7 separate regions of the Homo sapiens genome follow, and all the other regions are linked to region 7. Evidence: fine-mapped expression QTL. A gene starts in region 7. Each other region holds a variant in brackets. All regions are shown on one strand. Distances are between the middles of the regions. Region 1 has its middle 62 kb from the start of CLDN23. Region 2 overlaps PRAG1 (PEAK1 related, kinase-activating pseudokinase 1). Region 3 holds the start of LINC02950 (long intergenic non-protein coding RNA 2950). Region 4 overlaps PRAG1 (PEAK1 related, kinase-activating pseudokinase 1). Region 5 has its middle 33 kb from the start of FAM85B. Region 6 holds the start of LOC105379224 (a long non-coding RNA gene). Region 7 holds the start of PRAG1 (PEAK1 related, kinase-activating pseudokinase 1).

The links.
Region 1: its variant is fine-mapped to the expression of PRAG1 in tibial nerve (GTEx, PIP above 0.99). The same link has a PIP of 0.9 or more in subcutaneous fat.
Region 2: its variant is fine-mapped to the expression of PRAG1 in monocytes (TOPMed, PIP above 0.99).
Region 3: its variant is fine-mapped to the expression of PRAG1 in thyroid (GTEx, PIP above 0.99).
Region 4: its variant is fine-mapped to the expression of PRAG1 in whole blood (INTERVAL, PIP 0.93).
Region 5: its variant is fine-mapped to the expression of PRAG1 in monocytes after R848 (Quach 2016, PIP 0.95).
Region 6: its variant is fine-mapped to the expression of PRAG1 in fibroblasts (GTEx, PIP 0.96).

What each region holds. Positions count from the first base shown.
Region 1 is chr8:8,637,702-8,641,964 of GRCh38, reverse strand. No RefSeq gene overlaps it. Among named protein-coding and RNA genes, the nearest start is that of CLDN23, 62 kb to the left of the region's middle. RefSeq lists a silencer at 1,937-1,986. The variant G/C (reference allele first, on the strand shown) is at 2,059.
Region 2 is chr8:8,340,409-8,344,671 of GRCh38, reverse strand. The region is part of intron 3 of PRAG1 (PEAK1 related, kinase-activating pseudokinase 1); the gene reads left to right. Among named protein-coding and RNA genes, the nearest start is that of PRAG1, 44 kb to the left of the region's middle. The variant A/G (reference allele first, on the strand shown) is at 2,524.
Region 3 is chr8:8,460,356-8,464,618 of GRCh38, reverse strand. LINC02950 (long intergenic non-protein coding RNA 2950) reads left to right here and starts at 3,232. Exons shown (of 3, transcript NR_186598.1): 1 at 3,232-3,499. It overlaps LOC107986913 (a long non-coding RNA gene), which reads right to left and starts at 4,194. Exons shown (of 4, transcript XR_001745796.2): 1 at 3,209-4,194; 2 at 2,138-2,197. RefSeq lists an enhancer at 3,066-3,360. The variant C/G (reference allele first, on the strand shown) is at 2,166.
Region 4 is chr8:8,326,336-8,330,598 of GRCh38, reverse strand. It overlaps PRAG1 (PEAK1 related, kinase-activating pseudokinase 1), which reads left to right. Exons shown (of 6, transcript NM_001080826.3): 5 at 2,138-2,889. Among named protein-coding and RNA genes, the nearest start is that of PRAG1, 58 kb to the left of the region's middle. The variant T/A (reference allele first, on the strand shown) is at 1,778.
Region 5 is chr8:8,258,528-8,262,790 of GRCh38, reverse strand. No RefSeq gene overlaps it. Among named protein-coding and RNA genes, the nearest start is that of FAM85B, 33 kb to the right of the region's middle. The variant G/A (reference allele first, on the strand shown) is at 2,505.
Region 6 is chr8:8,557,904-8,562,166 of GRCh38, reverse strand. It overlaps LOC105379224 (a long non-coding RNA gene), which reads right to left and starts at 806. Exons shown (of 3, transcript NR_188124.1): 1 at 633-806. The variant GA/A (reference allele first, on the strand shown) is at 2,340.
Region 7 is chr8:8,384,684-8,388,895 of GRCh38, reverse strand. It overlaps PRAG1 (PEAK1 related, kinase-activating pseudokinase 1), which reads left to right and starts at 2,457. Exons shown (of 6, transcript NM_001080826.3): 1 at 2,457-2,575. RefSeq lists a silencer at 2,075-2,754.

The DNA of each region.
Region 1 (4,263 bases), 250 kb before region 7:
CCTCAGGTGATCCACGTGCCTTGATCTCCCAAAGTGCTGGGATTACAGGCATGAGCCACCGCACCCAGCCCTAATTTTTGTACTTTTAGTAAAGACGGGGTTTTGCCATATTGGCCAGGATGGTCTTGAACTCCTGACCTCTAGTGATCATCCCACCTCAGCCTCCCAAAGTGCTGAGATTACAGGCATGAGCCACCGTGCCCAGCCCCTTCTTCTCACTTTCTCCACTTTACTCAGCACCCACAATGCCTCTCCTGCCCGCTTTCTATGACTAATTTTCCCCCTCAAGACTTCACCTGTGTTGTCTGGGGAGGAGTAGGAGGTGATACTAGAATAGGAAGTGTCATCTGCGTCATGTGTACCCCCTGGCCCCCTTACTTGGAGTTGGTTGTCCTCTGTACACCGATAAGAGACTCTGAAGGAGTGACCAATGTCAGAGTGGTACTGTGAGGCAGTCAGACTGCCGCTCCCATCCTCCCAGGAAGATGTGAGGGAAGGAACCTGAACACAGATGTTTGTGCATTTGTCTGGGAGTTAGGAGGATGAAGGCTGGAGGCAGAGTGTGTAGGAGGAGGGAGGAGAAGAAGGGAAGTGAGAAGCTGTGACTGACTTTGAAAGAACTGGGTTGTTGGACCTCATACATTCTCAAGGGCTGGGAAAGCAGACGTGAATGTCCTCGAATTTAGCTAATAGAGAACATCGATTTCCTTTATGCAGCTCAGCCAAATGCATTTAACTTCTACTTAAATATTGCCAGCAAGTATTTTTCAGTTCTTACAATAAAATCCTCTTTTTAGGTCACCTTTCAAATTTCCTGGCTGTCCCTTAGAGGGGCTGCATTCAGAGATAATGTCTTAATTCAGCAAGACATCTGACTTAATTACACTGCTAATATGCATTTCTTCCTTCCTCTTTTAGAGAAATAGAGAGGAAGACAAACCCTCATTTTCTAGAACTATTTTCTTGTCCTGTGTTTTAGCACTACTGTATATATATGATGCCCTCTCTGAAAGCTTGCCTCTAGGTTTACCTGTCCACCAACCATTTAGCCAGGCCCAATGTCAATAGCAGAAAAGCAGTGGATTAATAACAAGAGAAACAACAAGAGCAAGAAGAAAGCGTATTCTTCTTTGTTAGTTCTCCTGGCTGCACTACATCATAATTATGGTTTCATACAGCCTCTGTGTTTTAAAAATTGTGACTTTAGGTGACAGTACAGAAAGCCAGTGATGCTTTCACTCTCATATGCCTCAATGGTAAGATGTATACAGAGTGTGTGAACTGAAAATGGTCAGGAACTAAAGAATATTTTATGATCTAAACTAGTCGTCATTGTTACAGTGCATCTAACAAGAGAACATCTTCAACAGCCCTCCTCCTCCGTGGAAGCTGTCTAGGAAACACATCTCAACAATTCAAGAAATTCTCATACCATGGGTGTTCCTGGCTTCCTGCTATTTTCTCACTCCTGCTCCCCTCAGCCTTCACCCCCACCCTAATGAATATTCAGTCTGCATCCTTCAACCAGGATTTTGAATAGGATGCTTCCTGTTTTTCCTATTAAAGATTAACTGTTGTCCTGGGTAAGAGACTGTTTAGTGAAAGCTGGCAGCTGGGAATTCCTGTTTATTTTTTATTATGACCCTGGTTCTGGGGACAACATATATCTCAAAGTTACAAATAAGGCCTTGTATATTCCGATGGCTCTGTTAGTCCTGACTCTGTATTGCATTCTTTTTTTAAAAATCTACATGCCTGTCCCATCTCACTGTGAGCAATTCAAAGGCAGGAATTAAGTCTTATTAATTTCTCTCTTCCGTTGCCCAGCATAGTGACCAGAACAGAGCTCAATAAAATGTGTTGAATAGATAAATGGGCTGTTAAGAGAAAAACTTTAGCAGAATTAAATTTAAAGGAGTTTAATTGAGCAATGAATGATTCACGGATCAGGCAGCCCCCAGAATTACTGCAGATTCAGAGAGGCTCCAGGGGTACCTCATGGTCAGAACAAAAAAAGGGAAGTGACGTACAGAAATCAGAGGTGAGGTGCAGAAACAG[G/C]TGGATTGGTTACAGCTTGGCATTTGTGTTATTTGAACACAGTCTGAACACTCAGCACTGTATGAATGGTTGAAGTGTGGCTGCTGAGATTGGCTGAGACTCAGCTATTGTTACAGGCTGTAATCCTAAATTAGGGTTTCAATCTTGTCTGCACACTAAGGTAGGTTGCAGTTCGTCCACAAGGACTCAAATACAGAAGTATGGAGTCCTTCCCAGGCCATATTTAGTTTGCTTTAACAAGGCATAGCAGTGATAAGTTCCAGAGAGAGGTGGTCAGCATGATTCATCACTGTCCTCAGACAAGAAGAGGATGAGGAGGGATGAGAGCCATTTGTGCCTATTTTGTACCTTTTTGGCAAAGTCATGATTACTTAGTCATGTAACATGTAACTTAGCATGACCCATTGGGTACAGAAACTAGGTTTAATTTTTTTATCCAACAGTGAAGTTTTCCATACTTCACTCAAGTACTTAGTAATTGCTGTAGCTTTGCTTCATTGCAGCGGCTTCATAGATCATGGCTGTTGTTCATCGCTTGTGGCGTGCCTGGGAAATCAATAGCTAAAAATGTTTTGTGAACCCTTAGTAGTTGTTACCTGGGTAGGTTTGGAATGTTCCAGGAGAATTAATGAACAATCAGGTGATAGTTTTGTCATTTTACAGGGAATAATAAGCAAATGCGTGTTTGGAAGTGTGATTCTATCAAATCTGTTTATAAATAAGTGCATATTTGCCATTTAAAGTAATTTTTTTATCTGTGACTTGGGCTTCATGGGATTAGCTATAATGACACGTCTGGGAGTCTCCTCACAATTAGAATGAAATCCTCGAGTTTTTTTCCTAAAAACCTTATGGATGGTGTTTTGCATTTGTCATCTGCAAGAAAACATGTAAACACCCTGGTATTTCTTTAGTATTCGTTTTTAAGGGCTGCAAATGGGTTTTACAAACATGATTTCATGAATCCTTAAATAAAGCCTGGGAAACAGTAGATACACTTAACATTTAGCAAAACTCTTCAATAGCTTCTTGCCACCATAGGCATAAATTCCTCCACAGCTCGCCCTTTCTCAGACACTAACCTCCAGTTACACCAAACGATTGCAGGTTTCACCTCATGTGCACTCTCTTGCCTTCAGCCTTTTGTGTATACACTTCTTTCCCCCAGACCCTCCCTCCCCAACTCCTAATCCTCCTTCAAGATGAGAAACTTGAATATCACCTCCTCAGCACAGCTTCCTGATTTCTACACCCAGTTAGGTCCCTTGCTAGTTGCTTCCTCACAGAGGGAATTACACAGAGAAATTAAGGTCCACAATGCAAACATTTCCAGAGTAATCATCACTTTTTAAGTTATTTTCAATGTCAATAGAAAATATTTGAGTTCTGGGCTGTCCTCTTTGTGATAATCCATGTCCTTTTATTTATGTATTTGAATTGATGTTCTGTCCAAAGTTGCTGCCAAAATTACATTTTGGAGGAGCCAGGAAGAGCTTGTCAAACATCTTGATGTGTGGTTTGTATGGTTTCATTTGGTCTGACGATCTTATCTATCCAGAGAAAAAGCAAGTCACACCTCTATCTTTGCCTTCTTTCTCTGGATAGTTTAATATATTATTAATAGTTTGACCATAATTCACATTCCATTTTTAGGAGCATCGGAAGATTATATGACATTTCTGATTTTATTAGAACATTCTTTCATTTAATATTGCTTAAAAAAAACAGCCAGTATGTGGAGGCTGAGAAGCCTTTGGTTATATAAGCTGCTTTATGATGGTTTTATTTTAGTTGTATAACATATTTGTGTTTCTTAATGATATTCAGGACAGCAGAAGGGTCAAGAGAGCAGATTTTGAAGGAAGCCATGCCACGTTCGTTACATAAAGTACTATATCTGAGGCTCAGTTGTCTCATTTATATACTGGAAATGACAATAATATCTATCTCATAGGATTACTATAGGGGTTAAATGTAATAATGAGTTATTACATTAATAAAATGTAATAAAATGTAATATGTAATAAAGAGTTTGATATACAGCTCAAGGTTAGTACTCAGTCAGTGCTAGCTATTTTATTACTCTCTCTCTCTCTCTCTATATATATATATATACACTAACGATGAAGTGGCGTTATTGGGGTAATAATCTGGAGTAAATACCCGAGATTCATTGTCTCACGGCCATGGAAAACTAGGACGCAG
Region 2 (4,263 bases), 44 kb after region 7:
CCAAGCATGCAGTGAAGTTCAGATAATAATTTAACTGACCTGCAGGTGTTCCCTAAGATTTTTCAAATATTAACATTTTGCCATTTGCTTTAGATTTTTTAAAAATAAAATGTTACTGCTACTGTGGAAGATCCCTCCCTATCCAATTCCCATTTCAACCTCCCATTGCTACCCAGAGCAATCACTGTCTTGAAGTTGATGAGTATCATTTACATTTTATTATGTGCTCCGTAAAACATGTATATATCCTTATATGTTTTTAATCTCTATACAAATGGCATCACATTTTACTTGAGCCTTTTGTAAATTACTTTTAATACTCAGCATTTTAAAATATTTCTTCATATTGCTACCCTAAAATCCAGTTCATTTTTTTCTACTGCTATAAAGTATCCCACCAAAAGACTATACCACAATGTTTTCATTCCTTTGTGGAAGCACCGTTCAACAGTTTAGAAGGTTATTTGCTATTTGTAACGTTGTGAACACCTTTCTCCACTTATAAGAGTTTCTCCAGCTCTGTACTGCACAGTATGGTAGCCACTAGCTTAAAATGTGGTTAGTCAGAATTGCAATGTGAGTAAATATAAAATGCATGCCACATTTTAAGGACTTAGGATGAAAAAAACATATGGAATATATCATTAATAATTGATATAGGTTATACTGATTACTGCTTAAAGTGACAATATTTTGAATACATTATGTTAAATAAAATGTATTACTATAATTATTTTTTCCCATTTATTTTACATTTTTTAAATGTGGTTACCAGAAAACTTAAAATTACATATATGGCTTGCATTATAATTCTATTGGACAAGGCTGGTCAAGACCAGCCAGTAACTGATTGCCCACATGCAAGACATCTGTTTTTGTAAATAAAGCTTTATTAGAAAACATGCCACTAATTTCTATGGTGGCTTTCCAGCTACAACAGCAGAGTTCTGTAGTTGCAACAGAACCCTTATGGTCCACGAGCCTAAAATATTTACCATCTGGCCCTTTAAGGAAAAGTTTGTTGACTCATATTCTAGAGCAGTAATTTTTAACCTTTTTTAAAAACCATGACCCACAATAAGAAACATTAATATCATGACCCAACAAACACACATCTGAAACAAAAGTTTTACAAAACAAAGTTTCACAAATCCTTTCTATGTATTTTCATATTTTCTGTTCTGTTCTGTTTTGTTAAAATAAACTGCTGGTCAGTAAACTGCTAGTGACCCACTCAAGTGACTTAGCCATTCATTCATTACTAGTTATTTAAGTAACATTGCTCAAGGACATATACCCAAAAATGGAGTGACTGGATTATAGGAATGTGTGTATTTAACTTTACAAGATTCATCACATTGTTGTCCTGTGTGTGAGTTTACCAATCTACAGTCTCACAAACAGTGTGAGAGAGTTCCTATTTCCCTATATCTTTAACAAAATCTGACGTTGTCAGTCTGATCTGATGGGTATGAAATGAAATCTTGTTTTATTTACAATCTGATCATTCATAATTTTAATAATCTTTTCATGTGTTGAGTGGCCTTTCTTGTTTCATTTGTGAGTTGCCTGTTCATTTCCATTTTAAAAATGGGGTCATTTGTCTGTTTCTTAGATTTATAGGCACTCTTTTTTATTCTGCCTACCAGTACTTTATTAGTAATGCGGGTTGCAAAGATGTGAGTTGGCCACTCCAAGGTTTGTTTTTTTTCACTTTTTAATGGTGACTTTTATGTTATGAGGCAGAAGTTTTAAATTTTAAAGTAGTCAGATTTATCTTTTTCTTTATATTGCTATTTTTTAGCCCTTATTTTAAAAATTATTTCCTACCCCAAGTTCATAAAGTTTTCTCGTTATTTTTTCTGATGAATTTAAAATTTAATGGGTGTTTCTTTTCTGTTGAAAATTCGTGTTTCTACACGGTATGAGATATGGCTCTACTTTCTTTTTTTCTTCACATCATAAATAGCTGGTGTAAGTACCATGAATTGACTTGTTAATCCTCCAGTCTGTTTCTTGGGTCTGTGTCCTGGAAATGTTGGTCCTAGATTTATCAGAACCAGATCTTTACTGATCTCATTTATACAGCAACTGGTCCTTGATGGTTTTACAGGGTAGTTTTCGCAATCTTTCAGAGAACACATAATGTTTCTCTTATAAAAATTACCTGAGATAAGGCCGGGCGCGGTGGCTCACTCCTGTAATCCCAGTACTTTGGGAGGCCGAGGCGGGCAGATCACGAGGTCAGGGGGTCGAGACCATCCTGGCTAACACGGTGAAACCCCGTCTCTACTAAAAATACAAAAAAATTAGCGGGGCGTGGTGGTGGGCGCCTCCTGTAGTCCCAGCTACTCGGGAGGCTGAGGCAGGAGAATGGCGTGAACCCGGGAGGCGTAGCTTGCATGAGCCAAGATGGTGCCACTGCACTCCAGCCTGGGCAACAGAGCAAGACTCCATCTCAAAAAAAAAAAAAAAATTACATGAGATAATTGAAAAAGTGAAAGTTACTCAATTCATTTTATA[A/G]TTCCTTTTCTTTTTTTTGAGACACAGTTTCACTCTGTCACCCAGGCTGGAGTGCAATGGCACCATCTCGGCTCACTGCAACCTCCGCCTCCTTGGTTCAAGCGATTCTACTGCCTCAGTCTCCCAAGTAGCTGGGATTACAGGCGCAGGCCACTATGCCTGGCTAATTTTTGTATGATTAGTAGAGATGGGGTTGGCCTGTTGGCCAGGCCGGTCTCGAACTCCCTACCTCAAGTGATCTGCCCGCCTTGACCTCCCAAAGTGCTGGGATTACAGGAGGGAGCCACCGTATCCGGCCGTCATTTTATAATTCTATTTTAACCTTTATATCCAAATTGGACAAGGACAGGACAAGAAAGAAAAATTATGGGCTAGCCTCTATTTGAATGTAAATGTAAAAATCTTAAACTAAATATGAGTAAAACTGAATCCAGCAATGTGTAGTAAAATAAGTTCATACAACATGTGCAAGGATGGCTTAATTAAGAAAAGCTATTAACATAACTCATCACATTCACAGAGTAAAGGAGAAACATGATATGATTTTTTTCCCATAGATGTAGAAAAGGCATTTAATAAACCCTAATAGCCAAAAATGATTTTGAAATACAAAACCTTAGAAAACTTGAAATAGAAATAAACATCCTTAGCCTGATAAAGTGCGTCTACTGAAATCTGTAGTAAATATACGCTTAGTATTGAAGGATCCCTTGTACTGCCTGTGTGTGGAGTTCCCTCTTTGTATCTGGCACCTGAGAATTGTTCTTTCTTTTAATCTTGGCTGTTACTTTAAGTAAGTATGTGTGTGTGTGTGCATATGTATATGAATATATATATATGCTCATACATACACATGTTTATGTATTTTTTGGTTTTGTCTATTTACATACATTTCATGAAGTTTGTGGAGTGGGAAGCTGTGCCAGCTCTGTAGCCATGGTGCTGTAGTTTCTCCCTTAGTGATTTTCTGGGCCTGAAGACCAAGAAACTCTAGAAACCACTTTGGAAGGGGCAAAGTAGGGGATAGCCACAGAGCTGGCTCTGGCTTCTCTCCTAGACTGAGGAGTTGTTATGCATGACTTCATATCCTGGCTTCCCTTGGAGAAAACTATTAGTGATAGATCTGATGTGGATATAAGAATATTGTATGAAACTGTCTGATTTTATTTTGCCAGGAGATTAGGCAAGGATCAGCTACTGCCATAGCATTTCCTAAGGAATTGATATTTCCAAGGTTCCCACAGCGATACTGAGATACAAAGATGAAGATTAGTCATAATGTTGCCTTCACTGTCACATTTTTTTTTTTGACAGATTTAACACAGTTTAAAAGTACGATTCTAAGGGTTGGGAGTGGGGAGAGGGACGTGTTTTCAAGGAGCACTTTTTGTGGTAGCGAACAAACTTTAAACCCTCCTGTTGATACACAGGGGATTCCCGTGACTATGAAAATTAAAACAGGGCCTGGCAATGTTGAACACAAAGAACAGCCAATAAATTCTTGACCGTAAGGTCATGCGCATTAAATAAGGCAGTTCTGATGCCAAATCAGTACTGTACTGTATATTTCCCATAGCAGATATTGAGATATGGATCTGCCGTAGAAGGAACAGGAATGTCATCAGGAAATATCAGTTCAGACAAATGTGGGTTTCCACCAGCAGGGGAAGAGCTGGACCTGGTGTGGATCTGTCTCCCTTCATGGTGAGAATGTCAGATCAGAAATGAATATTCATGTGG
Region 3 (4,263 bases), 76 kb before region 7:
TATATTATATATAATATAATAATATTATATATAATATATAATAAAATTGATTATGTACATTTCATGTTTTAAATAAAAAGCAAATTGTGAAAGAGCTTTGCCTCTGAAGTCAGATTGTCTAGATTAGTAACTGGTTCTCTTCACTGGCTCCCTGCAAAAAGCCTTGGAAAATCTACTTAAACTCTGTGCACCTCTATCTAGTTCCCCTTCTGTTTAGGTGGGATAGTAAGAATACCGCCTTATAGAAGAATTGTTAGGATTAAATGAGATCATTCATGTAAAGCACATAGCTTGGAACCTGATAGGCAGTATATGCTCAGGACTACCTGCTGTTGTTCTCACTGATGTTTTTCCTACCCCAGAGATCTGATTTAATTGGTCCAGGGTGCAGCCTGGATATAAGGAGTTTTCAACTCAACGCAGGTGATTTTAAGGTACAGCAAAGGTGGAATACCAGTGGCCTGCAGCCTAGAGGAAGCTTCCATGCAGAAGTGGGTGAGGATATGTAATTACTGCCACAAAATAGCTGATTCCAGATGTTTCCTTGTCGGTCATTCCACTTCAGCCCTACACTACCCCGATGATAAGGAAATGGAGTGTTAACACCACCGTACTCCTCATTTTATGAGTTACCCATCTGAAAAAGTTGACTGTAAGCAGTTATCTAAATTGAACCCCATGTACTCTCTTAATTAGGTTTGATTTCAGAGATAAATTCCCACAGGAGAATGCTGACCCTAAGAGATACCAAAACTCAGGCTTAAGAATGTAGCAAAAAAATTTAAGAATGTACAATTTAACAAGAGACAATGATATGAAAACTATGAATAAGCTCTACATTTGTGTTGGGTTCAGCTATTGGCATCTTGAAAGCCCATAGTTTGAACCAATATCAAAAGCTTGGGCGGGGGGGGGGAAACCAATGTATTTCATCTTTAGACATTTTACAGATCCGCCTCCAAATTTCCAGGTTTAAAAATGGCAGTACTCCAACACAAGTCAAGTTAGCCTGTGCAAAAGTGGGAATTAATAGGCTCTGGTAGCTGGGAAGGCCGCTGTTGAAACCAGCAGAATAAAGGAAAGAACAGCTGGGACCAGCACCCGGAATGCCAGGATTGCAACTGATTGTAGTCACTAGGTTTCAGGGGCCATTCAGTGTTTCAGCTGAGCGTTTCAGGTTTCAGCTACACGGTGATGAAAATTATGACATCAACAACAAACAGAAAAATAAATATATAGTGTGCAAAAATTACAAAAAAAATAGCCGTGTCAGAAGACAGAGAATTGTGTGAGTGGAGGGGAGGGGTGTGGTGGGGTAGGGAAGGCCCTACTACTAAGGTGACATTGAATAAAGGCCTGCAGGGCTTAGGGGGTGAGCCCTGCCATCTTCCAGGCAGATAGAATAGCCAATACAAAGACGTGAAGCTGGGAACGTGCATGTTCTGTTCAAGGAACAGTGGGGAGGACCGTGAGCAGAGGTGGACAGCAGGTTGCAGGGAGTGGCAAACTACCGTAAGGCATTGGCTTTTACTGTGAGTGAGATGGGAATCATTTGGAGAGTTTGAGCAGAGGAGCGACAGAATGTAAGGACTGTTTCAAAGCTCTCTAGCCAAGCAGACAACAACCAAATGACCTCTTTGCTATATGGAAACTAGCCTATGCGGAAGCAAAGCAGAGAGCAGGGAGACCAGATAGAACACCACTGTTGTTTTCTAGGAGAGACCTTCTGCCCTCTGGACTTAAGATTGTCAAAGTGGGCCTGGTGAGATGTCATTACATCATCAGAATTTGGTTCTCTTTCAAAGGTGGAGATGAAAGACCTCGCTGATGGGTTTCACATGGGGTTGGGGAGAGCGAGGAGTTGTGGTCGACTCCACACTCCCAGGACTCTCCCTGTCATGCAGCTTCATGCCCGCCTGCATTTATCTTTCATCCCTGCCACCTGTCTGTCGGCCTCATTCCAAGTCTCCCCATGTCAGGTAATAACACGGTGCCCAAGAGCCCCAAATTCACAGCCTCCTATGGAGCAACCATGGATATTTACTTTATATTTATCGGACCTTGGCAAGACCCAGTTTGACCCTTGGGTCAATCACTAACGTCAGGACAGAATGATTGGTCACACCTGAATACATACCTACCCCTGTGGCCAGGGAAGCAGGCAG[C/G]CTTCTGGAACTGGTGAATTAGGAGAGGCTTTCTTGGCGAGCAAAACAAACAAACAAAAAAAAACAAAGTTAGCGTAGTCTCACCACCAACTACAACCCAAGTTGTTTTTCCTTTGAGTTCAGTCCTCTTCCCTTGGATCCTGAAGATTCTACCCCAAACCCAGAGCAGCTTCCAATATGGGGAACTCACTCACCTCAAAAAGAATATTGCTCTTTCAGTATAGAACAATAAGAGATCAAATTCAAAGCCATAGTAATTCTGAATCTGGCTTCAGGGCTCAGGTTAGCCTGTCACTCAAAAGCAACTGGAACTGGGAAAGAGGAAGAGGGAGAAGGTTTTTCCCTAACTGCAGGAAAGCTCTTCCATCCCACACCAGCTTAATTGTTGAAAGAGAGCCGCCTTTAAACGCTTTAGACAAAATCTGGATGGAGAGGCACTTCCAACGAGTTCTTTCATCCTGAGATGTTTTAGGGCAAGACACACCTGCATTTTTTATCCTACCCAGGGCTTACTGAGCTCTTTGTCAGTTGAGGATTCTTGGCCTTAAACCAGCTCCACCACTAGCATTTGTGTGCTTTGGAAAAAACCTCTCTGCTGAAGAATTGAGAAAGTAGTCCATGGTCTCAAAGTAATGACACACTGTGGCGATACAGGATCTTGAAATGTGTGGGTAAGATGTGGCAGGGGCCTCGTGTGCTGTGACGTTGGCTGCCCGGCCACATTAACCCTCAGTGACTTCCCTGAGCCCAGGGTCTCATTGCCCATCCCACTGCAACTGCTATCTTCATCCTTCCTTTTAGAACACCTGCTCCCACAGTCCCTGAGAAAGAACTGTTCTATGTTGACAGTTCACCCCAACCCCAAACCACCTTGGGCTGTTTACAGTAAATACTGCACACTAGTGAGGTCTTATTGATCTCTTTCTTCCCAGACACCTTCCCAGCCCCTCCCTCCCTGCTCTCATTTCTGTGTCTGCCACCTGGAAGCAGCAAATGCGGCTCGGCTTGCTTTTCTGCATACCAGAGGCAATGATAATATTTACCGTGGCAGTTGGAGGACTTTGCTGCAGTCTTCACAGCTCTGGCACTCAGGTTGCAGTGAGATCCAGGGAGAGCCAGAAGTGAGGCGCCCAGAGAAGTGTTCACTTGTGGCTCGAAGTCCAGGTGTGATACTGCATGAAAACCCCCCGATTTGGCCATCCAGAGCATGGTAATCAAGAAACGCCTAGATGTTTCCAAAAATGGATTGGGTGTCCCTCCAAGTGTTCATGAAAAGGTTGAATTTCCTCTTGGTGGGGAGTTACAGAGGAGATTAGCAGATCAGGCTGAATTAGGTAAGTTGTCTCCAAAACAGATTCACATATCCCAAAAGGAACAAAGCTAATCCATTAAGGCACAGGAGAAAATATTATCATTTTATTTATTTTTCTTTTTAAATATAATTTTTGTATATGTCTTAAAGTATGTTGGTACAGAAGTATGTCATTTATAAATGAATAAATATACATCAATTGAGGTTACATACTCAAATTATTTTTATTGCTTAGGACAACTGAGCCAAACCATTTGAAGCCCATTAAATTAGGAGATGCCTAGGCTCTTTTCTCACACCGAAACTGGGGTGTTCTGTAGTTTTATGTTCTGGGACAAATTCTGCCATGATAGACCTGAGAAGGGGAGAGAGGAGGAAACTGACAATTGAGGCAACTGGTCTCGGCTGGGCGCAGTGGCTCACACCTGTTCACACCTGTAATCCCAGCACTTTGGGAGGCCAAGGTGGGCAGATCACTTGAGATCAGGAGTTTGAGACCAGCCTGGCCAACATGGTGAAACCCTGTCTGTACTAAAAATACAAAAATTAGCTTGGCATGGTGGTCAGCACCTGTAGTCCCAGCTACTCAGGAGGCTGAGGCAAGAGAATTGCTTGAACCCTGGTGGCAGAGGTTGCAATGAGCTAAGATTGTACCACTGCACTCCAGCCTGGGTGACAGAGGGAGACTCTGTCTCAAAAAAAAAAAAAAAAAAAAAAGGGCAACTGATCTCCCGGTGGTAGCCAGATTCTGTGGGCTTTCTGCTCTCTGAGACTCTTGATCCTCCC
Region 4 (4,263 bases), 58 kb after region 7:
CCAGACTGCACCACCACTGCTTGATTTATTATTAACTTGAGCCCTCCTGGAAGGGGTATAAATCACTCACTCAGCCTTGCTGCCAGGGGCCCCGCCTATCATTAGCAAATGGGAAGGGCAACTCCCTATGATCTTGATAAACCACAGGGAAACAAGGATTGCTTACTACAGATGGGAAAGTGGGCAAGGAGAGCTTAAGAAACACGGTGCTCCCTCTTGAATTTCATTTTCACTTGTGACAGTCTCACTCTATAGCCCAGGTGGGAGTGCGGTGGCACAGTCTCGGCTCACTGCAATTTCTGACTCCTAGGTTCAAGTGATCCTCTCCCCTCAGCCTCCTGAGTAGCTGGGATTATAGGCATGCACCACCACGCCCAGCTAATTTTTGTATCTTTTGTAGAGTTGGGGGTTCGCCATTTTGCCCAGGCTGGTCTTGAACTCCTGAGCTCAAGTGATCCTCCCGCCTTGGCCTCCCAAAGTGCTGAGATTACAGGCATAAGCCACCGTGCCCAGCCCCTGTTGAGTCTTATGATAGATGATAGAGCCAAGGAGGATATTGGTGCAAGGACCCCATAGTCTTGCTCAGCTCCCCAGGGCTTTTCTTTGCATGAATCCATTGGTTCTCAGCTCCTGTGTTCAACAGGTTGCATGCACTGAGTTTGTCCTCCCGTCAGCGTTGCATTCAAGGTTGTGCCCTGCTGTCGCTCACTAATGCTGCCTCGGTCACTGAGGCTGGGGCATGAATGTCAGCCCATGGCCATCCATCTTGCTCCCTAGAGAGACCCTCCTCCCTGTGGAGCAGCAGAAATAAAGAGACCCAGTCTTGATCTATGTGGCTTGCAACTGGTGTTTGAGCCTCAGGGATCTATTCTGTTCCCTCTTGGGTTGGAGAAAGCAGAGAAGGGCTCAGTGTGAGCTAGAAGGTTATTAACTGTTCAGGAGCAGCCCTAGAAATGTCCTGTGCACCTGAGTGAGGTGACACAAGACTCATAATTTGCTTCCTTTGGGGCCTTCTACCCCTTGTCTTCTCCTATGCTTTTGTTCTGCTTTTTTTTGTTGTTTTCTGGTCCTACTGCCAAGGTGTGGAAAGGCATAGAGACACTCCATGCTCTTCCCTTAGGGTGATGTGGCATGGAGAACTCAATGAGGGGCACACATCCTAAGTACACATTTCCTTAGGGCTGCAACCCATTATTATTATTATTATTAGATGAAGTTTCACTCTGCCACCCAGGCTGAGTGTAGTGGCGCAATCTTGGCTCACTACAACCTCCATCTCCCGGGCTCAAGCGATTCTCCTGCCTCAGACTCCTTAGTCGCTGGGATTATAGGCACGCACCACCACCCCCAGCTAATTTTTGTATTTTTAGTAGATACGGGATTTCACCATGTTGGCCAGGCTGGTCTCAAACTCCTGAGCTCAAGTGATCCGTCCACCTCAGCCTCCCAAAGTGCTGGGATTACAAGCATGAGCCGCCGCACCCAGCCAAAAGGGAGAATTTTACCATTGGCCAGTTACACCCTCTATAAACCTGACTTTTAAAAAATTCCACGGAAACCACACATGTTCGAGTTTGTTATTGCTGTTGCAGCATTGTTTGCAAAATATTGGAAACAATTTAAGTGTCCATCAAAAAGGGATGGTTAAATTATGATACTTGCATATGGTGATATATTATGGTGAGACTGTTTAAAATAATTAAATAGATCTGCATATTTGATTTAAAAATCTCTCCAAGATGTGAAAGAAAAGCATTATTCCAAACAGTAGCCACCG[T/A]TTGCTCTTTTCTATGTAATTTGTGTGTGTGTGTGTGTGTGTGTGCGCACGCGTGCAGGCACGCATTTGTTTGGATTGTTGGAGGGATGCATGAAACACTACTGACAGTGGTTTCCTCTGATGAGAGAGCTGAGTATGAGGGACAGGGTAGGAGGAAGACTTAGTTGTCAATCTATACCTTTTCTGCATTTTGATTTTTTCCATTGTGCATATATTGTCTATTAGAGAAATAGAAAAGAAGTAACATAAAATTAATTGCTCTGACCAAATAAATAAATAAATAAAGGGAAACAAGTCTGCAGGACCCTGGAATTGAGTGGCACTGGCCTTGGTCTTATGGTTTCTGTCTCTCCTCTTCAGGTCCCTCGTCTGAGCTGGCTCACTCGCCCACCAACAGCGGGAAGAAGCTCTTTGCTCCCGTTCCGTTTCCTTCAGGCTCCACTGAGGACGTGTCCCCCAGTGGCCCCCAGCAGCCCCCTCCACTCCCCCAGAAAAAGATAGTGAGCCGGGCAGCCTCTTCACCGGATGGCTTCTTCTGGACCCAAGGCTCCCCCAAGCCCGGAACAGCAAGCCCCAAGCTGAACCTAAGCCACTCGGAAACCAACGTCCACGACGAATCTCACTTTAGCTATTCGTTGAGCCCCGGGAACCGCCACCATCCTGTCTTCTCCTCTTCCGATCCTCTGGAGAAAGCTTTCAAAGGCAGTGGCCACTGGCTTCCGGCAGCAGGGCTGGCGGGCAACAGAGGCGGCTGCGGGAGCCCTGGCCTCCAGTGCAAAGGGGCCCCCTCCGCCTCATCCTCCCAGCTGAGCGTGTCCAGTCAAGCCTCCACCGGGAGCACCCAGCTTCAGCTGCACGGTCTCCTGAGCAACATCAGCAGCAAGGAGGGCACCTATGCCAAGCTGGGGGGACTCTACACCCAGTCCCTGGCCCGCCTTGTAGCCAAATGTGAGGACCTCTTCATGGGCGGCCAGAAAAAGGAGCTCCACTTCAATGAGAATAACTGGTCGCTCTTCAAGCTGACTTGTAACAAGCCCTGCTGTGACTCGGGGGATGCCATTTATTACTGTGCCACCTGCTCTGAGGACCCCGGCAGCACCTATGCTGTGAAAGTAGGTACCACTCCCTCCTTGCATTCTGCTGTGCCACTGGCTGGTGCTGGCTTGGGCAGAACTGTGGCCTGAGCAAGTCATTTCACCTGTCTGGGCATTAGGAGGGGAGTTGATTCCTAAGCATTCTTTTTTTTCTTGTAAGATAAGAGTCTCACTTTGTTGCCCAGGCTGGAGTGCAGTGGCACAATCTTGGCTCACTACAGCCTCCGCCTCCCATTTTAAAGCGATTCTCCTGCCTCATCCTCCTGAGTAGCTGGGATTATCTGTGTGCACCACGGTACCCAGCTAATTTTTGTATTTTTAGTAGAAATGGGGTTTTGCCATATTGGCCCGGCTGGTCTTGAACTCCTGACCTCAGATGATCCACCCACCTCGGCCTCCCAAAATGCTGGGATTACAGGTGTGAGCCACCACCCCTGACCCCTAAGCATTCTTTTAACACTTAGTGCTCAGCAGCTTCACTCTCTCTCTGCCCCAGGACATGGTGCAATGAGATTTGTAGTATGAATATAAGACACATTCTGTGCTTTAGCTGAGTTAAGAAAACAGTTGCCTTTTAGTGCAACGGAGAGTTTATTCATTTATTGACCAGGTTTTTATTGAGTGTCTACTATAGGCCAGGTACTTTGCCACAATCTGAGTATGTAGGTGTGAATATAAGCTTCCTTATAGAGCTATGATGTAGTGAGGGAGATGGATAATGAGGTCATTCTTCTAATGTTAGATCCAGAAGGAGCATTCGACCTAGGAATCATCTTGAACAATAATAGTAATAATATCATTTGTGTGAGCATTCACTCTACAACTAGACTCTTACCTCTAATCCTAACAGTAATCCTACAGGTTAGGTAGGTTTTACAGATGGAGGATCTGAGGCTCAAAGTGGTTAAGTAATTTGCCCATAGCTAGTTGGTGGCTGGAATGGATTTGAGCTCTTCTGTGTCTGTCTCCAAAGCCTAAGTTATGTCCCTACCATTTAAGATAAATGAAGTTCAGAGACATTAAGTGACTAGCTCAAGGCAGCACAGCTCTTTAACCTTTGATGCTGGATCAGGCCTCTTGCTACCCACACTGTATTGCACTGTCAGAGTGCAGCTCTGTGTGAGCTAGTTGAGCCATCTGCACCCATTTGGGCCACTGGAGTCTCTACCATGAACTCCAGTCCTTCCTGTGGCCCTATTTGTCATCTTCTTTTGCTGTTCCTTGATTACCTATTGAGACCCTGGCCCTTCTATAAATGTGGGCTTTTATTGGGAGTCAGGAGGGAGACCCTGAGCTATCTTCTCTCATCACCTGCCCTAAGACATCGCTTTTTTTTCCAGTTAGAAAAGTGCAAAGAATAAGCTAATTTGAAATGGCCTTGGTGGGGTAGCT
Region 5 (4,263 bases), 130 kb after region 7:
ACAAGCCTCTTGTAGCCATAAGAACCTACATGGGGGAAATTGGCTTATTTACAAATTTTTAGGTATGGTTGGTGGTAGGCAAACATGTTCACCAGCAATTCCTTCTACCACTGGTTGCATGCGCCGTTTCTTCCATTAAGAAATGAAGTCTATTTCCTTTCCCCTTGAACCTGGCCAGATCTTTTAACTTGCTTTACTTGCTTTGATTTCTCCCCCTAAAAGAATATAACAGAAACGACACTCTTGAACCTCCGAGCCCAGGACTTAAGATTGACAGTTTCTTCTTTCTCCCTCTTGGAAGCCAGCTGCCATGTACATAGTCCAACTACTCTGAGGTCAATATGCTACAAAGAAGCTCAGGCTACCAAAGGAAAGATCAAATAGAGGAGAACCAAGGAACCCCAGCTATGCCCCCAGCTCATCAGCCAACTAAATGCAGTTGCTACAATGATCCCAGGCAAGACCATCAGGAAAACTTAACTGGTTAACTTATGAAATCAAGAGATATAATATATTGCTTTACTTTTAAGCCACTAAGTTTTTTGGTTGTTTCCTTTGCAGAGCCTAATTAGATCATAAAAGTAGAGGAGCTTTTGTAATAACAGATGTGTGAGCCAAAAAAATATATAAACAGATTCCTCCACAAGATTCCATGGAAACCACAGTGAGTGGCAGGATGGCAATAATCCACACATGAAGAAACAAAGGCAAAAAGAAAAATTTTCTATAAGAACCTCTGCAAATAGAAGGGCTACATTGTCACTGGAGGAACAAGAACAATGACCACTGATAAAGTCCGTTGGGAGAAGATTCCTACATGGGGTAGAAAGTTTGCATAGATCAGTGGTTTTCAAACTATTTAGCAATGGAACCCCGATTGCAAAATTAATAAAATTATATTTTATTAGTAAATTATTTTTAAGTTTAAAGCCTTCCTTTTACTTCCTATAAAAGCCACTGATATGGTTTGGCTGTGTCCCCACCCAAATCTTAACTTGAGTTGTATCTCCCAGAATTCCCATGTGTGTGGGAGGGACCCAGGGGGAGGTAATTGAATCATGGGGGTTGGTCTTTCCTGTGCTATTCTTGAGATAGTGAATAAGTCTTACGAGATCTGATGGGTTTATCAGGGGTTTCTGCTTTTGCTTCTTCCTCATTTTTCTCTTGCCACCACCGTGTAAGAAGTGCCTTTCTCCTCCTGCCATGATTCTGGGGACCCCCAGCCATGTAGAATTATAAGTCCAATTAAGCATCTTTTTCTTCCCAGTCTCAGGTGTGTCTTTGTCAGCAGTGTGAAAATGGACTGATATAGCCACTATCCATGAGATCAGTAAATGCATTTCAGTGCAAACAAACCAAGTTTAATGGCAGCTGTATTCTTTTTTTTTTTTTTTTGAAATGCATCCTAGGTCTGTCACCCAGGCTGGAGTGCAGTGGCACGATCTTGGCAACCCCCGCCTCCCGAGTTCAAGTGATTCTCCTGCTTCAGCCTCCCGAGTAACTGGTATTACAGGCACATGCCTCCATGCTTGGCTAACTTTTGTCTTTTTAGTAGAGACAGAGTTTCGCTGTGTTGGCCAGGCTGGTCTTGAACTCCTGACTTCAAGTAATCCACCTGCCTCGGCCTTCCAAAGTGCTGGGATTACAGGCATGAGCCACCACACCTGGCCTATAGCAGCTATATTCTTATTCCTACTATCCGTTTCATGTCCGTATGTTGTTTTGGATGTACTGAATAGAGGAAATTCACATTCATCCAGAAGTAGGCTAAGGGGAACTGCAGTTCAAGGGCATGTCCCTCAAGCAAAGCAAAACGCCCAAGACATGACGGGTGCCCAGTGAATACTTCCTCAATGTGCAAAAGAGAAGTAGGTTGCAGGAAGGGAGTTCCTGATCAGGTGCCTGTTTCCAGAAGTGGCCACTTGTGTGGCAGCTGGCAGTGATGAAGAGCCCTTTGGCTGGAACTGGTCCCAATCTCAGCCCCTTCACTTGCTGCTTAGTTCTGGAGCCACTTAAGAGAATCTGTGCCGCCTTTATCCACTCAAGGCATAGAGAGCTCTCAGCCTCTCTCCCTTCCTTTTTTGCCAGGGAGGATGCCCTCTCTGATACAGGCACAAGATCAGCACTGTCTCCTTCCGTAATCAGCCTGTTTCTTTTTCATTCCTCTGCCCACTTTAATACAACCAATACAGCTGTTTTGTTACCTTTGCCATTTTATTCCCAAAGTTGCAGCTTATATTGGGTGAACCTTCCCAAAGGAGATAATTTCATTAATGTCCATTTCATTCATTTTAAATTCATTCATTTAAAATTCAATTTCATTAATTTCCATTATGGAAGCTTAGGTGATGAACAAAAATCAATGGACTTACTTTATAGCCTCATGGGTTAGTAGTCTCTGAAGGGTGATTTTGTTTGATTAAGCTCAGCTGATGATATGAATTCCAAGCAGCAAATGATCACTGAGTACCTGTTTTGTGGAAGGAAGGCATTGGTGTACACAC[G/A]TGGAGGCTGTGGACTTCATATGTTGTACTTGGTTTCAGCCTTTACTGAAACAAGTGCGGACACTAAATGGCAATGGGGTCCGTTTAGCTGACTGGATATTAGCTGCTCAGGCTATTTTTACAAGGACCGTTCTAGCCACATCACCACATGTAGTGCCCTGTGACGCAAAATGACTCCATTGATGGAAATGCTTTTCTCCTCTTCCTCTGCCTTTTGCCAAGGCTAAGGGAGCTGAAGGAGACGTTAGGTAAAGGGACCGAAGAAAATGTAACAGACAGCAGCTCTAAACAGACTGGCCTCTAGGAGACTTGCTAAGAGGAGGTCCTTCTGGGCTGAGTCAAAGCTCCCATTATTTTGGAGGTTTTCTGGAATCTTCTGCTTTGTCTGTCATTCTCCCCTCCCTCAGGGTCCATAGCAGTGTACACATTACCTTTTCAAAAGCCACTTATCACTTTGCATGGCCACTGTGAATGTACATGTCTCTCACACATATTGTGAACTCCTCGAGGGAAGGAACTCTGCCCTGGACGTGTTTGTAACCCCTGTCCCTAGCTTGGTAGATACAACAGGCCTTGCTTAAATAGTATTTTAACAAAGAGCCCTGTGTCCTGTACAGTTCTAAGACAAAGAAGAAAGCAGTTACAGTCTTGTGGAAAAGGTGGGAAAATGTGGGAAGATGGTAAAATCTGTTCCCTGATTCTTCTGGTGCCTGCTGGTACCTTCTCTGGGCTGACAAACAACTGCCATCTCTGGTAAGGAAGGGTTGCTGTCCTGCTGCCAGGCACACAGATGCTGAGGCATACTGCTGCCCTGAGCTTTCCGTCTTTCTAACTTAATAATCCTCAACATTTTGGAGAGAAAGCTTTTGATTTCCTTCAAGGTGTACAGGGAAATTTTACCAAGATAGATCATATTCTGGGCCATCAATTACGTTTCAATGAATATGAAAAGATTAAAATCCTACAAAGCGTGGTCTCTGATCACAATGGAAATAAAGTAGATATAAATAAAAGATATTTAGAAAATCCCCAAGCATTTGGAAACCAAGTAATACAATTAAAATATCCCAAAAAGATATAGTAAATAGTTGAAAAAGAAAATTTATGAGATGCAGTTAAAACAATGTTTAAGGGAAATTAAGCACCAAACACCTATATTAGAAATGGAGAAACATCTTACTCAATATCTTCAGCCTCCATTTGAAGAAAGAAGTAAAAGAAGAGCAAAGTAAACCCAAAGTAAGCAGAAGAAAGGCAATAATGAAGAATATAAATCAATGAGATAGAAAACAATAAAACAATGAGGAAAAATCAATAAAACCAAAAGCTGTTTTGTTAAGGAGAAAAATTAAAATGAGAACCTGTAGCCAGTCTTATTAGGAAATAAGAGAAAAGACACAAATTACTAATGTCAAGAATAAGAGAGGTAACATCACTATGGATTCTATACATCCTAAAGGGATAATAAAAGAATGTTCTGGCTGGGTGTGGTGGCTCATGCCTGTAATGCCAGCACTTTGGGATTCTGAGGTGGGTGAATCACTTGAGCTCAGGAATTCAAGACCAGCCTGGCCAATATGGTGAAATCCTGTCTCTAATGAAAATACAAAAATTAGCTGGGCATGGTGTTGCATGCCTGTGGTCCCAGCTACTCAGGAGACTGAGGTGGGAGAATCACTTGAACCCAGGAGGTGGAGGTTGCAGTGAGCCGAGATCATGCCACTGCCCTCCAGCCTGGGAGACAGAGCGAGACTCTGCC
Region 6 (4,263 bases), 170 kb before region 7:
CGCCGGGCCTAAAGTACATGACCTCTTAAGAGCTCTCCCAACATTGTGACCTCTGAGATTTGCTGTAGTCCTCACTGCAGAAAGAATACGCATTTGTGAAAATCTGTCTCATTGCTTTGGAACTGTGCTCACAGTTCTTCTGTGCTTGTTTGCATGTCTGTTTGTTTAATCTGAAATGGCATGTCAGTGTTTTTCAAAATTCCTCACTCTTTTGGCATCAGTTAAGATTCTTGATTGCAAGCTACAGAAATCAAGTCTGGTTAACTTAATATGAAAAGGACTCTCATGGCAGTTTCTTTGAGATCTCACACTATCAGCTCTGTGAAGTGAGAACCTGGAATAACACACAAGGCATGTTATAAAGGAGCTCACTCCATTTGCGACATTTGTCCATCGCCAGCTGGTAGGTTTCCACTCCCCTTCCCTGCTTGCCCCACACCTGGGCAACCAAGTTAAGAAGACCGTGGATGTTCTGTGCCCCTGTCAATGTCCAGGAACCTCAGATAGTACCCCGTCTAGCCCATGTGCCAGCCCCAGCCCAACTTCATCCCCTAGCCATAATAAAAGCCCAAAGCCGCCCCTAAACCACCTTAGTTGCCTTCCAACATAAGCTGTTCCCTCCTAGAACTCACCAGCTTGTGAGTCCTAAATATAATTTATTCAACTTCGTTGGTGAGAGTGTTGTGTTATCTCTCATGACACATAGAAAACCCCTGGGTTAAGCCACAGAATTCCAGCTGAACGTGGGCTGCTGCCCCTGCCTGACTCTTGATGCTGCCACAACTTCTGGGAATAATTTGCAAACTGACCCTGGGTCTTTGTGACATACCCCGAAGATTCCAAGTTCTGGATGGGAGAATTGCCATGCTTGAGCCTAGGCACGTGCCATCATCCCTGGTTGCCAGGGCAGGAGGACGATCTCCTCTTCTGCTTCCCTAGTTATGAGCACAGCAGCTTTAGAAGTATCTGGGGGAAAAACAGTGAGACAAAATAACCTTCAAACACAATACTCAAAGATGGAAATTCTGTCATTGAAAGACTTACTAATTCTTTGTGAATAAAAAATATGCACCTCTTGTAGTCTTCAGATACTTAGAAAGCTTTTTAAAAAATTGAGATAAAATTCACATAACATAAAATCTACCATTTTAACCATTTTAAAGTGTACAAATCAGTTATCTTTATTCACAATGGGGTGCAGCCACTACTAATATCCAATTCCAGGACATTTTCATCACTTCAAAAAGGTATATTTTACCCCTAAGCAGTCAGTCCCCATTCCTCCTCCTCCCTTCCCCTGGCAATCACTAATCTGCTTTCTCTCATTGTGGATTTTCCTGTTCTGGACATTTCATATACATGGACTCAGATACTTTGAGGTCTTTTCTGACTGGTTTCTTTCACTTAGCACAATATATTCAAGGTTCATTCATATTGTAGTGTGTATATCAGCACTTCATTTTTATTGCTAAAAATATTCCATTTTACGTTTACACCACATTTTGTTTATCTTTTCTGATTTTATTTTTATTTTCTTTTTTATTTTTTGAGACAGGGTCTCACTCTGTCATCCAGGCTGGAGTGCAGTGGCACAATCTTGGTTCATTGCAACTTCTGCCTCCTGGGTTCAAGTCATTCTCCTGCCTCAGCCTCCCGAGTAGCTGGGACTACAGGCACACACTACCATGCCTGGCCAATTTTTGTACAGAAGGCTAATTTAATACAGAAGGAGTTTCGCAATGTTGGCCTGGCTGGTCTCAAACTCGTGATCTCAAGTAATCTGCCTGCCTTGGCCTCCCAAAGTGCTGGGATTACAGGCGTGAGCCACTGCGCCCAGGGCCTTATTTATCTTTTGAACATTTGGGTTGTGTCAAATTTTTTTTTTTTTTTTTGAAACAGAGTCTCGCTCTGTCCCCCAGGTTGGAGTGCAGTGGCATGAACTCGGCTCACTGCAAGCTCTACCTCCCAGGTTCACGCCATTCTCCTGCCTCAGCCTCCCGAGTAGCTGGGACTACAGGCACCCGCCACCACGCCCAGCTAATTTTTTTGTATTTTTAGTAGAGACAGGGTTTCACCGTGTTAGCCAGGATGGTTTCAATCTCCTGACCTCATGATGCGCCCACCTCGGCTTCCCAAAGTGCTGGGATTACAGGTGTGAGCCACCTCGCCCGGCTGGTTGTTTCAACTTTTTGGCTGTTTTGCATAATGCTCTTATAAACATTTATGTACAAGTTTCTGTGTGAATATCTGTTATCAATTCTCTTGTGTATATTCCTAGGTGGAGTGGAATTGCTTGGTCTTAACTGTAACTTCATGTTTAACTTTTTGAGGAACTACCG[GA/A]ACTACTGTTTGACATTTCTGCCAACAATGTATGAGGGAGTCACTTTCTCCACATCCTCACTAACACTTGTTATTCTCATTATTATTATTTTTATAGCTCTCTTAGTGGATATGAAGTGGTATCTCATTATGGTTTTGATGTGTACTTCCCTAATGACTAGTGGTGCTGAGCATTTATTTCATGTATTTATTGACCATTTGTGTATCTTCCTTGGAGAAATTACTATTCAAATTCTTTGCCCATTTTAAAATTTTATTATCTGTCTTTTTGTTGTTGAGTTGTAATAGTTCTTTATGCAGTCTGAGTATCCCTTATCTGAAATGCTTGGCACCAGGAGTGTTTCAGATTTCAAATTTTTATCAGATTTTTGGAATAATTGCATATACATAATGAGATGTCTTGGGGATGGGACACAAGTCTAAACACAAAATTTATTTATGTTTCATATACACCTTATATACATAGCCTGAAGGTAATTTATACAATATTTTAAAATAATTTTGTGCATGAAACAAAGTTTGTCTACACTGACCCATTCGAATGCAAAGGTGTCACTATCTCATATCAGTACTCAAAGCTTTGAATTTTGGAGAATTTCGGATTTTGAAATTTTAGATTAGTAATGTTCCAAATGAATCTTCTGGATACAAGTGTCTTAGCAGATATATGCTTTGCAAGTATTTTCTTCCATTTTCTGGGTTATCTTTTTATATTCTTTTTTTTTTTTTTTTTTTTGAGACAAAGTCTCACTCTGTCACCCAGGCTGGAGTGCAGTGATGCAATCTTGGCTCACTGCAACCTCTGCCTCCTGGGTTCAAGCAATTCTCCTGCCTCAGCCTCCTGAGTAGCTGGGACTACAGGCACGTGCCACCACGCCCAGCTAATTTTTATATTTTTAGTAGAGACAGGGTTTCACCATGTTGGCCAGGCTGGTTTCAAACTCCTGACCTCAGGTGATCTGCCCACCTCAGGTGTCCTTTGAAGCAGAGTTTTTAATTGTGATAAAAGGTCTCATTTATCTATTGTTTCTTTTGCATTTGTGGTTTTTGGTGTCACATCTAAGAAATCATTGCCTAATCCAAGGCCATGAAGACTTACCCCTATGTTTTCTTCTAGGAGAGTTATAGTCTTTGCTCCTCCATTTATGTGTTTGATTCATTTTGAGTTCATTTTTGTAGATGGTGTGAGTTAGGGATCCAACTTGATTCTATTGCTTGTGGTTATCTAATTGTCTCAGCACCATTTGTTGAAATGACTATCCTTTCCCCATTGAATGGTCTTGGTGGCACTCTTGTCAAAAATCAATTGAACACAGATGTATGATTTTATTTCTGGGCTCTCAGTTCCATTCCATTGATCTGTATGTCTATCCTTATGTCAATACCACACTGTTTTGATTATTATAGCTTCTTGATTGTTTTCATATTTGGGGGAGAAACTAAAAAAGGAACTTTTTACACTAGGGAGATTGAACTGCAAGAATTGTAAGAATACAGATGCTAAGAATACACACACAATGCTACCTATCTGATTGAGGGTAAAAATAAGGAGGTGAAAACCCTGTTTGCGTCTGAAGAAACACATAATCTGCTCTATTTAGAATAATTTTATGTTGCTGAAGAGAATACTTTGTGTTAAAATACTTTATTACAAAGAAATTTCCATTAAAAATAAAATCTTGTACTTTTTTTGAAAATTTCGTTCAAAATCTCATGACTCAAGCACAATTATTCTAATTTCTCCATGGCTTCCTTCTAGTCTTTAGTTACATTTTACATATTTTTATGCATTTTAATCATATTATATGTAGACTTTTCCTTCTTTTTAAACTTAGCATTGCTATAAACAATTTTATGCTCATATGGTTTTCATATATTAATAGGTACTTAAAATCATATTAATTTACATATCACAAGTTACTT
Region 7 (4,212 bases):
GGTGAAATGCTGTCTCTACTAAAAATAGAAAAATTAGCAGGGCATGGTGGTGGCCGCCTGCAATCCCAGCTACTCAGGAGGCTGAGGCAGGAGAATGGCTTGAACCCGGGGAGTGGAGGCTGCAGTGAGACAAGATCTTGCCACTTCACTCCAGCCTGATTGAAAGATGAAACTCCATCCCAGGAAAAAAAAAAAAAAGAATAAGTTAGGTAAAGAGAAGAAAATAAAGTGCAAAAGTAAGTGCTTCTTTTATGTGTTCAGCACAGCCTTTATTCTGTGAGGTCAATGTCTCTCTTACAGAGGAAAGAAGTGAAACATTTAGCCTGAATCCTGAGAACCAGGAACTTCTCAAACATCTTAGTTTGCCCTCTCCCAGTGTAAATGAATTGCACACTTTCTGAAGTCACTTTTGTATTTCTCCATTGCAGACCACTTTGTACCTACCTGTTTAATCAACATCTTCCCCTCTTGAGTCTTGGTAGGGTCTGGATCTTTCAGCTCTGTTGGATGCTCATGAAGTGTAACCAAAGTTTCCCTTCCTTTTTTTTTTTTTTTTTTTTTTGAGACAGGGTCTTGCTCTGATACCCAAGCTGGAGTGTAGTGGTGCGATCTCAGCTCACTGCAACCTCCACCTCCCTGGCTCATGTGAGTCTCCTGCCTCAGCCTCCTGAGTAGCCGGGATTACAGGCGCCCACCACCACACTCGACTAATTTTTGTATTTTTAGTAGAGATGAGGTTATACCACATTGCCCAGGCTGTTCTTGAACTCCTGGCCTCAGGTGATCTGCCAGCCTCGGCCTCCCAAAATGCTGGGATTACAGGTGTGAGCCACCGCGCACGGCCAGTATTTGTTCAAATGATTTCTCTCCACTTAGGGGAGAGAGAAAAATAGGGCTGGACTACCTGCACTTGGCAAGGGCAGAGTGGCAGAGTAGACTTGCCTACCAGCGAAGCCAGACAGCCTTTGGTTCCAATCTTAGTACTACCACTTTTCAGCTGAGGAACCCCAGCAAATTGTGAGGCCCCCGAGCCTCAGTTTTCTTATCTGTAGAATGGGGATAATGATGCTCTCCTCATAGGATTGCTTAGCGCTGGGTAGGTCCTTAAGGAATGTCCATTGCACTCCCATCCCTCTACAGCTTCCCCCAGATTCTGTCCTCTTAGGAGGCATGGGTGTCACTGGAACATGAGGAAGAATTCCCTGGATCCTTTTTTCCCTTTCCTCACACAGAAGCCAAACCTCAAATACACATCTTCCCTCTCTGTCCACACCCACAGCAGCAAAGAGGAGAGCCAGGGATCTGGGGGTGGGGGTGGGGGCCCATCTTCCTCCTCTCAGTGGGTGGGGGCTCGCAGGCTGACTGGCAGAGGACCTTCACTGGAGTCAAAATAAACTGCCTTCCTGGGGAGGGGATAGAGGGCGAGAGAAGCCGCAGGTATTGTTTTGTGGGGGAGGGGGGTCCTCTTCCTATTCCATTTCACTGAATTCTTCCCACCCGGCATGGCCCTGGGAGGTGACCATAGCCCTGGCTCCCCGAGTAAACACCCAGGTCAAGCTACAGGACTGACTGGGTCTTAAGCTATTATACTCCCAGTGAAAAGATTTTTTTAGCCCGAGGACTATCTCGAACTCGTTCTATCTCAGTGAATGACTCACTGGAAACGGTGTAAACACAGGTGTATTACTGGCCTGCGGAAGACTTGGATGTCCCAGCATGGTAGAAGGCCAGGTCCCTGCAGTGCAACGCTTGCATTCTACATCCAGAAAACTAAAGTTCAAAGAGGTTAAGCAATTTGCCAGAATCCTGCAGTCCAGGGACTGAGCGGAACCTGGAATCCGCCACCGGGACTTCCAGCCCTGCTCCCTCCGGCGCCACCCTCTTCCCAGAGGTAGGGAGAGCTGAGGCTCGCTGTGCTCACGTGGCTTTCAGAGCCCGCCTCGGACCCTGACCTGTATTCCACTCCCGACCCCACACTTCCTCGTTTCCCCTTCCTTCTCCCTCTCTTCCCAGGGTCCCGCAGGGCCGGCTGGATGAAGTGATGCCGGGCACCTATACACGCATGATGGCAAAAGGAGGATTGCAACGCCAGAGCTCGCCCCTCCAGAGCTGTGCAGGGTCCCCACCGAGGAGGGGGTGCAAACGGGTGCTGGGCTCGGGGGTCAGCCCGCGCCAAGTCTGGGGCTGGGGGCGGAGCCTGCCGGTCCGGGGCGGGAGGGTGGGCAAGAGAGGGAGTCCCGGGGCCTGGAGACTTTGGAGGAGTCGGGGCCCTGGGGGTAGGAGACCGCCGGGTGGGAGCGGCAGGCGCAAGCCGGGCGGCGGGGCGCGCGGGCCAGGCGGGGCCGGGCGGCGGCAGGGACTGCGGAGGTGCGGCGTGAGCTGGGGCGGGCGGCGTCACCGGAGGCGGAGGGGGCGGAGCCGCGCTCACAGCTGCCACCCGGCCGCCGGGCCCAGGCAGAAGCCACCCGCCCGCGGCCGGGCACGCACCGCGCGCAGACCTTCTGCGAACAATGCTCCGGCCGGGCGGCTGGCGGCTCGGAGACCGACGGAGGGGCCGGGGGAGCGCAGCCCAGAGGTGAGCCCGCGACGCGCTCTCCAAATTCGGCCTCTTTTTGTCTGGCGAGCGTGGTCGCAGAGGGGAGCTTTGGAGGGGCGCTGCGATCGCCGAGCGGGCTACCCCCGGGGTGACAGGCGACCGCTCGGGAAGTGGGCAGTGCCGGGGCCGCGTGAGCCCCGGGTGGTGCCCGAGGTGCAGGGAGGCGCCCGGCCGGGAGGACCGAGGAGCTGGAGGGTGTTTTTGATTCATTCGAGAATCGCGCTCTTTAAAACGGGGAAACTTTCCTACGAGTTCCAGGAGGGAGGACCGACTGTTAGGATGGTTTCTCTGGTCTTGCTGCTCTGTCTGCGGCCGGAGGCTGAAGCGCTTTGAGGACTGCTTTCCACCGCTAGAGTATTGTCAAGGGGGAGAGACGGAAGGCCGCCTGGCTGCTGGGACCAGGACCCGGGGGGATGGTTTGGGGGTGCAGGGTATGCAGCAGCGGGGCTCCAGAGGCAACGAGATGATGCCCTTTTCCCCGAGCCCTGGCTGAGCCCTCTGAAACGCATGCTGTGAGCACGTTATTAACCTTTGCTGGTATCCGGGGACACACACACTTAGAACATAGAATCCTCTGCTGGGCATGGAGGCGGCCGGGCATTCGCAGCGGAGAGCGCCAGCTCACGGTGTGTGCGTTTCTCTCAGGTAAGCTCTCCCTGCACATGGTTTTGCAGAGCCGATAGCAAAGCCCAATGGTCTAGGGGCGAGGAGTTTTGGCGATGCATTCAGTGCGGAGTCAGGCTCAGAAGGCTTTCCTGATCACTGGCCTGAACTATTCTTAACAACTCCTCTCCCCTTCCCTTTCTGAGAAGAAAATTTGACAGAAAGCCCTAGGGAATTCCGCAGTTATTTTTCTCTCCTGAGGTCTGGTTGGTTTCGACTGTAGTGGGTGCAAAACCACATTCCTCCCTCTGAGATTTTCTTTCCTCCAGCACTGGAGGAAGAAAAAAGAAAAGGAAAAGTTGGGTGAATATCGTAATTTACCCTCTGCGTGAGTAGGGAGGCAGGGGGCTAGTGGGTGGTAAAGTTGTCACTTTCTCCTTTCTGCCTGGTCAGCCCTGGCCAGTGGAGTGTGCTGAAGTTCAGACACTTTCCACACATATTTCTTTCCTTTTACTGGCGTTGCATTAATTTAACTGTAACATACAGAAAAAAATTTTAGGTGAATGTTTTCTGCAATTCTGTCACTTCAGAATAAGGCATAAGCAACTTCTGATGTAAGTCTGAGGGGGTATTTTGGGCCAAAATATTTAATCTTAAAGATCTGGCCACCTTGATTCTTCAGATTCTTTTTTGAAATGGGGTGGGAGTGTATCTGACAGCTTCAGTCTTGCAAACTGTAGCCACAAATCTAGTGCAGAAGTTTGCAGAGGCAAAGACATTTTTTTCATGACTTGGATCAGAAAGAATGCTGAGCTCTTTTTTCTAATCTGACACTGCAGCCTCCTACTGAAATGGGGAGGATTTGCATAATTCTGGGGGCTGCCTCCCCTCAGAAGTAAGGAATGTGGGCTGCGAAGTGCCTTCCCCATGCTGTGGAGAGCTGGCACTGCTGCACCAGGCAAGGCGAGGCAAGGCTTTGTGGGTGCCACTTGTGTTTCTCACCATCTTTTACT